Regions from separate parts of the Homo sapiens genome. Here region 1 is linked to region 2. The links come from fine-mapping of genetic effects on gene expression. A gene starts in region 2. The other region holds a variant in brackets. All regions are shown on one strand. Distances are from middle to middle. Region 1 overlaps FGF1 (fibroblast growth factor 1). Region 2 holds the start of FGF1 (fibroblast growth factor 1).

The links. PIP is the estimated chance that this variant, and not a neighbour inherited with it, causes the effect.
Region 1: its variant is the best candidate, but not a certain one, in a credible set for the expression of FGF1 in fibroblasts (GENCORD, PIP 0.89).

Annotation. Positions count from the first base shown.
Region 1 is chr5:142,618,970-142,623,364 of GRCh38, forward strand. The region is part of intron 1 of FGF1 (fibroblast growth factor 1); the gene reads right to left. Among named protein-coding and RNA genes, the nearest start is that of FGF1, 65 kb to the right of the region's middle. RefSeq lists a promoter at 2,328-3,352. The variant C/T (reference allele first, on the strand shown) is at 2,011.
Region 2 is chr5:142,683,830-142,688,224 of GRCh38, forward strand. FGF1 (fibroblast growth factor 1) reads right to left here and starts at 2,261. Exons shown (of 4, transcript NM_000800.5): 1 at 2,128-2,261. RefSeq lists enhancers at 735-1,604, 2,704-2,729 and promoters at 2,207-3,070, 2,207-2,777.

The DNA.
Region 1 (4,395 bases), 65 kb before region 2:
TTTAGCCCAGGCCGGATTGCAGTGGCACAATCTCGGCTCACTGCAAGCTCCGCCTCCCAGGTTCACGCCATTCTCCTGCCTCAGCCTCCTGAGTAGCTGGGACTACAGGCGCCTGCCACCGCGCCCGGCTAATTTTTTGTATTTTTAGTAGAGACGGGGTTTCACCGTGTTAGCCAAGATGGTCTCGATCTCCTGACCTCGTGATCCACCCGCCTCAGCCTCCCAAAGTGCTGGGATTACAGGCGTGAGCCACCACGCCCAGCCTTTAGTTTTGTTTTTAATCCCTGTCACTGTGTAAGCAATGTGGAATACCCATGAAGGAGGATATTTTGCAGAGTATATAAAGCCACTGAAGGTAGATGTGTAGACAGACACCTGCTAAGGTGATAATTGGATGTATCCTCAAACCCAGCATATACAAAACAGGCCTTGGCTTTGGTTCCAAATATGCTCTAAGTCCTTGCTGCCTGTGGCTATGAATGGCATCACCCAAAATCTTAATTCTTCCTTAGAGATATTAACTAAATTTTGTTAAGTCAAATATACATGTTAAATGTTAAAGGTAACTACTAAAAGAAAAGAAATAGAATGTATTTAGTCCAAGCGGCAACTGGTAGGCGTAAGGGGGATAAGGTGGAATAAATAAAACTGTGCTTATCTTCGTGACCAGCCTGACGAACATGGAGAAACCCCGTCTCTACTAAAAATACAAAATTAGCCGGGCATGGTGGCGCATGCCTGTAATCCCAGCTACTCAGGAGGCTGAGGCAGGAGAATCGCTTGAACCCGGGAGGCGGAGGTTGTGATGAGCTGAGATTGTGGCATTGCACTCCAGCCTGAGCAACAACAGCGAAACTCCGTCTCAAGAAAAACCAAAAAACGAAAAAAAAACAAAACCCTGTGCTATTCCAAAATAATCTAGAAAAAGAAAAAAAGAAAATAAAGTAAAAAAATTGCTCAGAATTAGGTGGCCAAAATAAATCCAAATATATGTATAATCACAATAAATGTAAATGTGCTAAATTTACTAGCTACTGTTTTTTTTTTAACTCCATCTGCACTCTGATTACAAGAGACACATTTAAAACATAATGACATAGAGAGGTTAAAAGCAAAAGAATGAAAAATAGATACCAGACAAATGTTAACAAAAAAATTGAAAACTCGGCTGGGCGCGGTGGCTCACGCCTGTAATCCCACCACTTTGGGAGGCCGAGGTGGGCGGATCACGAGGTAAGGAGATCGAGACCATCCTGGCTAACACAGTGAAACCCTGTCTCTACTAAAAATACAAAAAAATTAGCTGGGCATGGTGGTGGGCGCCTGTAGTCCCAGCTGCTGGGGAGGCTGAGGGAGGAAAATGGTGTGAACCCAGGAGGCGGAGCTTGCAGTGAGCTGAGATCGCGCCACTGCACTCCAGCCTGGGTGACAGAGCAAGACTCCGTCTCAAAAAAAAAAATTGAAAACTCGTGTGGCTATATTAATATCAGATAAAGTAGGTCTAAGGCAAAAAGAATGACTAAAGATAAAAGGGATTGCCACATAATAAGTGGATTAATTCAACAGAAAGATATACAAATTCCAAACATGTATATATCTAATGACATAGCCTCAAAATACATAAAACAAAAATTGACAAATATGTAAAGAGAAAGTGACAACTCCGCAATTATGGTGGGAGATTTTATAATACATTTCTGTCATAAATGATAGAGCAAACAGACACCAAATATTAATATGTAGAAGATTGAAATACACAACTAGTAAACTTAATTGATGAGTGTATAAAAGAACCTTGTACCCAACAATGAAGTGAACATCATTCTTATCAAAGATACATGGAGCATTTACGAAAATTGACCATGTACCAGGTCATAAGGCAAGACAACCCAAATAGAAAAATTTGTTTCATTCAGACTATTCTTTGGGCAGAATAGAAATCACTCCCACCTGTTCAGTTGGTGAAAATGCCCTTTCAGTTTTACCTTTTTAGTGTCTCCTAAAGCCATC[C/T]TCTTTTCTCCAGCCTCACTTCTGTTGCCTTAGCACAGACCCAGCACCTGTCTCACCTGGGCTGCTGCAGCAGGTCCCACCTTTCCAGCACTGCCTTCTTTCAATCCACTGTCAATTCTGCTGCTAGTGACCATTCTAACTCATCACTCCCCTGCTGTAGATCTTTGACTGGGTCATTGATTTCCCGTTGTCTTTCCAGATAAAACCCAGACTCCTGCCATGACCTGTGAGGCTCTCATCATTTGACCCCTTCTTAACCCTGTGACTTTTTCTCTTATTGGCCTCTTTTTATAGTCCCCCTACACCCTCATACTCACCCAGGTCTTAGCCCAAACATTGTGCTGCTGCCAACAGTATTTTTTCTCTCTCTCTTTTTCTCTTTCTCTTTCTCCCTCCCTCCCTTCCTCCCTCCTTCCCTCCTTTCCTCCACCCTTTCACCATGGTCTGACTAAGTCACACTCACCCTTCAAAAATTTAGCTGGATATTTCGGATATTTCCTCCTCGAGCAAGCCTTATTTGGACACATCCCCCAACCCTAACCTCCCTACTCTTTCTTAAAATTCACATATACCAGTTTAGGTGGGTTCATTCCCCTGTGCTCTCCCAACAGCAGACAGCATTTCCTTTACTTCACTGCAGCGCTGGGTGTAATTCCCATCTATATCCCCCTGCCTAAACTCTTCAGTGATTTCCCATTGCTCTGGGACAAAAACAAAAGCCTTGCTGTGGCCTGCAGGACTCTGGGAGGTTCAGCCCTTACTCCCCCTCTGCCTCATTTCCCATCACGTCTCCCTCCAAACTTGCCTTCCATTTTCTGATTCCCCCCACCCTAGGACCTTTGCCCATGCTGTTCCCTCTGGAGTGATGTTCCTCTCTTTCTCTCTACCCTACTCCCCTGGTTAACTCCTAATTTTTCTTCAAATTTTAGTTCAACTCTCAATTCCTCATGAAAGCCTTTCCTGTCTTCCCTGAACTGAGTCAGGTTCCTCCAGTTCTCATAGGACCATTTAACATTTCTTCATGGCTCTTACTACCAGTGTTTAATTACACATTCACTCTTGTGATTATTTAATGTCTCTTTTCATGACTGGACTGTCAGCTCCATGATAGTACAAACCAATTGGTCTTGCTCACAATGGTATCCCAGTGCCTAGCAAAATGCCTGACACCTGATGGGCATTTGATAAACATCTGTTGAATGGGCAAATGAATGTAATTTAACTACGTTTACTTCACTGACTCCTTCATTAGTCTCTGAGACCCTGGGACAGAAACTATGCCTTTTCTTTCTGTATCTAGCATTGAGCAAATACCTATGCATTATTAGTGTCCTGTGAATTCTTGTTGATTGAAGGGCCAGTCCTTTCTCAGGAGCCTCTTGTGGAACATCTTATCAGACTACCTAATTAGCAGGTGATGTCCTATAGGTATTGACAAAGAAGCTAAGCCAAGAGTCTAAATGTATTTTAATTGGGTTCAAATTAGGCCAGAATACCCTACCTTTGGTTAAAGGCAGGCTCAAACCCTGTCCTCATCTTGTAATAAATACTTCCTTATTTCTTTAAAGAAAATACTATGGAAACTAAGGATCTCAGAAAGGAAGTGATCAGCTCCTTTAGTCTCAAGTCTGAACTTATCTAACCAAGAAAAATATTTGTAGGGCCTGGAAAAAACATCCAGGCTTTTTTTATTTCTGCCACAGCGTGTTAGGCTGGCAGGGCCCCACCTTCCACTCCCTGGTGAAGGAAAGTTTGCCGAAGAAAGGGAGGCAGTGTGTTCTTTGCTTTCTATTTCTTTTGCTCCATGTTCCATGGTCTGTACTGGGTCTGAGGTAGGAGTGTAGCCATGGCTGATTGGCCTGGGCTAGCATCTCAGCATGCTGCCCCCAAACCAGTTCTGTTCCATGAGCTGAAATCTCATCTTCCGTGGTTGACAGTAAACTGTGGACTTGACTATGGGATGGACTTGACAATGGTGTGCAGGAGACAGCTCCCAGAAGCTCATGAAAGCCAATTATTAAATATTCAGGAATTTTACTATTATTAAACCATTAATATCTTGAAATCAACCCTGGTGAGAGTATTTATATCATAGAAATTGGCAAATGCCAGGGCTTTTAAAATTCTCCTTTTTTTTCCCCTCTGATAGCTGGTTTACCCAGCATACTGCTAAACTTGGGTTTGAATCCTGGTTGGACACTCACTAGTAAATGACTCATTCTCACAGTGCCCCAGTTTCCTCATCTGCAAAATGGGGCTGCATAACAGTAGCTACTGAACAGAGTCACTGTAATCTCAGCACTTGAGAACTTGTAAGCATTCGATAGATATTAGCTTGACTATCACCAGCTGTGTACCCTTTTGACACTTTTTTTTTTTTTTTGA
Region 2 (4,395 bases):
AAAAAAAAAAAAAAGGAAAAGAAAATTAATCCTTTATCCTTTATCACAAACCCTTGTAGCAGAGCACATCTCCCCATGATCTTTTTAAAATCCTATATATACGAGCATGGTACCTAGGATGGATGTGTTCCTCCTCTTACTTTTGGGAACACCCTACTCTGTCAGTGGAGCAGCTGTGCTTTCACCACTTTACTTTCTTAATAAAAAGAAAGTGCTTTTGCTTTGCACTGCGGACTCGCCCTGACTTCTTTCTTGCTTGAGATCCAAGAACCCTCTCTTGGGGTCTGGATCTCTTTCCTGTAACAGCAGTCCCAAGATCCTAATAGTTTATGTGTAGTTCACAGAATGCATGTCACCTAAGTGAGTGGCTGCACTGTCCCAAGATGAGATGTCCCTTCAATGTAGATACGGCATATGGATGTCCGCCCACCATCTCCACTGAATGTTATCATCATGGCTGGTGCTACTCACCTGTAAAGTCAAACCACTTAACCAGATATGGCTTCCTTGATCCTTTGCAGAACTAGTCAAGTCATATGTAAACAGCAGATTTGAGAGAGAATTTAAAAGAAACTCATTGTGTTTTCTCTTAAAGTTTTGCATACTAAGTTTGCTTTGGATTACATACTTCATTTGCAAACCCATTTATTCACACTAACAAAGGCAGGGGCAACAGAAGAAAGTCTCTCTGAGTCCCTCTGCCAACAGCAAATTGTTGATCTTGCCTTCAGATCAACATCTCAAGAGGGGACTTTCCTCGGAAGCCCTCAAAGACCAACACAAAGAAAACAAAGGAAAAGGGAATTTGCGACTGTGAATCAGAGTCTCCACCAAAATCCTCAGTCATCCACACTGACAAACAGCTCCAGTAAACTGCTGGCCACCCTTCACTAGACATCACTTCCCAAAGCGAGGCCCACTCCTTTCAGCCCTGATGCCACTGCTGCTGGCTCACTGTTACACAGAGCTGGTGGAGGGGCAGCCTGGCTCGCCCTCAGCCGGGATGCTCAAGTCCTCCCACTGGGTCGGGGAGCTAACTCGTAAACAATCGCATCCCTGTAGAGAATGAAAGGAAAAGTGCCAGTCACCAGTGCAGAAAGGAGGGAGGCAAGCGGGGGTGGTGGGGTGGTGGGTGGATGTAACATAGCTAGAGAATAATGGAGTGTTTGAATTCTGCTGAGGCAGAGTGAGCCCTTGGGCCTCCCTTGGGTCTCTGAAAAGTGCGTACTTGATTAAATGCCTGAAATTTCCATCTCAGTATCTGGAGGGCTGCATTTCTGAAGTGCTCCTCTGCAGCAGCCTTGCATACCTTTGGCATGTAATTGTGATGTGGGTGTGGATAGTGTATGTGCCAGAGACTCTGTCCATTCTGACTCCTTCTTTCCTAGTGCCCATCGGAGGGGTACTGAAACGAGGATGTGATATTCCAAGATCAGAAAGGAAGGAAAGAAGTAATCCGAGTGACCATGGGGCCATGGGAATACCACCCTACCAAAACCCTGAGCTGACACACCCAGATAATCCTAAACTTCAGCCTGACTTCTATATCAAAAGGTTAATAAAATCTAAGCTGCCCACCATGTGGACAGCTTTTCCAAGGCAGCTGAATATCCAGGCTTCCCAAGAGAGAGCTAGTGTGACACAGCACGATAATGCTAGCCACACTCACCACAGCCAGACTCACCGCAGCTTTCTGCTTCTGCCGAACCTCAAGGGCTGCATCCAGCACTTTAGTAAATGAGAAATGCCTGCCCCCTCCAGCCCTGATTCAGGGCCAGTGTCAGGCGGGCACTGGAGGAATGGAGATAATGTGGCGGCATGGTGCATTCATATTTTTGCAGTCTCTAAACTAGAAGTACTATTTTTACATGTCTGTGACATCAGCATGCCCTTCCCCCAGAGCAGTCTGCACCATGGTTTAAACCCAGCCAAAGGTGAGCTTCTTGAGATTCACTTGCAGGAGTCCTGGTTCCAGTGCTATCTGCTTGAAACATTTTCTTTCTTCTCCAAGTAGCATTACATTTGCACTTGGACACACACACAAAACACACACACACACACACACACACACACACAACCTCAGCTATAACCTGCTCTGTTTCCCAGATCAGATGCCCTGATTCTTACCTAAAGAGCTTGTAGGCCGAGGGCTGTACCTCTCTCCACACTCGCTCAGTGCTGTCCCAGGGGAAGCAGAATCCACTTGGTGTCTTCTTCTCAGAGTAGCCCGGCTCTCTGAACCTCCAGGCTACTGCAGCTCTGAGTGGGGAGAGGGACGGGCCGTGGCATGCACATCAGGTTGCTGGCCTGCCTCCAGATACCATGCCACAGAGCTGGCTACCCGTCCCTAGGGCTCTGTGGGAAATCGAGGTGGGGGGGGTGTAGGCTGGGGGAGCCAAGAATGTCAGCCTCTAGGTCTATCTCCGGTCCTTGTTTATCAGTAGAGGGGACCTGCCTTTAGACAACCGCCCACTCCCACACCACCCGCAGGGATGCACACAGCTCTAAGCAACCCCTACTCTGGACAGCCAGCAGCAGGCCCAGGAACACAGAGCCATTGGCCAGCCAGGAGGGAGGTAGAGACAGAAGACGGTGGCAGCAGCTACCCTGGGTGTTATTTTAACGTGGTTTGTCTTGGGGCAAATGTGTGAGCCGAATGGACTTCTGGCCCGTCTGAGCAGAATCCTGTTTATTTTGAGGCCTGAGTTGCCAGGGAAACAGCAGGTCGTGGCTCGGAGACTCTCCTCTGGAGTCAGAAGGCTGCTGGATGAAAGGGAGGCCTTTTCTGTTCTGTCATCTGGCATCCCTGCATGGGGTGTAGGTGTCTGTGTGTGGCAACGTGTATGTGTGCGTGTGTGTGTCTGTCTGTGCCATCCCCAGAGCCAAGCCCTACAAATGGCATTTTACGAAGTCAATCGAGGCAAAAGCCATCCAGGTTGGGACTGGCGAGGGGCTGCAGAGGTGGCAGCTCTGTCCTCCCTCTCCACTGTTCAAGCCTGTCCCCGTTGGATGAGGTGAATCCTCAGGTGAGCTCAACTTCAGGGGTGGGAAATTCTTCAATGGGCCATGGACATCCTCTTTAGACTTCTGGCCAGGACAGGGTAAGGAAGGGAGGGAGCTGTCTGGACAAATAACTCTTTGGCTAGAAGGTGGGGAATAAGGTGGACTGAAAGGATATGGATCAAGAGCTGTCTTTGAAGAAACCAAATGAAAACATGATTAATAGTTTCCAATAATTGAAGAGTCGCTCCTGCTTATGCAGGCGTTTGAGCCCAGAAGGCATGAGTGTGTGTGTGTGTGTGTGTGCACGCATGCACTCCCATGTATGTACACAAGCCTGCTCACCTGATGATTCAGGTAGAGAGGTACAGATCGACCTGTCAGAACTAGAAATATGCTCTCCAGTCTCTACCTCCTCTGGGTAGTTGCTTAGGTGTAGAGAGGATGGAGTTGCAGTTTGTTCCCCACACTCCCCACAGAGCATGGGGGTGTGGGGAAGCCATCCATGTGCCTTCTGAAGGGATGAGCCTTGGAGAAGGAGCTCGTGTCCTGTACTAAAGAGCTAGAGGCTCAATCATCACAGAACTCCAATCACGGATAAGCAGCAGCTCCCAAAAGGGACTTGAATATACAGAAAATGTTGATTTCTTGAGACCCTATTAATTGGAACCCTCATGAACTACCACTTCTACACCTGCAAAGGATACTGATAATTTGCTTTAAAACATAATAATCTTCCTGAGTATCTGCAAGTTTCCAAAGGGCCTTCTGAATCCTTAAAGAAAATATTTTGGACAATGGTTTTCCAAGTATTAAAGAATCATTATGCTAGATGTAGTATGCATGTTAACCCTTTTTAACTACGTGAAATGATAGACTTGAAAGTTAGAAAATACCCTAAAAATCCTAAGGACAGAGATGCAGACTCAGAGACTCACTCAGGTGGTACCCTTAGTTAAAGTCCTCATTGTGACTAAAACCAGGTCTCCCTGCTTTAGGTTAACCCCGTGTTAACCTGCCTGCACTGTGTGGTTGGCCATTGTTGGGCAATTCAGCCCAAGGGCTCCAGATTCCCCCCCTCCTAGTGGAAATTAATGAGACTTTCCTACTCATATCTTCCCTGCAAACTCACAGGATTATCATGACAATCAAATGTGTCCAAGTGTGTTCGAGCACCTTGAACGCAGGGAATGCAAATGCAAGTCATTATTTTATTTTATTTCTCCATTATGTCCAGTTGTGAAACCCTGTTTAAACACACACACTCACACACACATACACACACAGCTTTTAGGCAAATATAATCCCTAGCTACTGACATATGCTAATTTATCTACTGCATATTGGGTGTTTGGCAATATTACTGTCCAAATACTGGGAAATAATCCTCAGTTA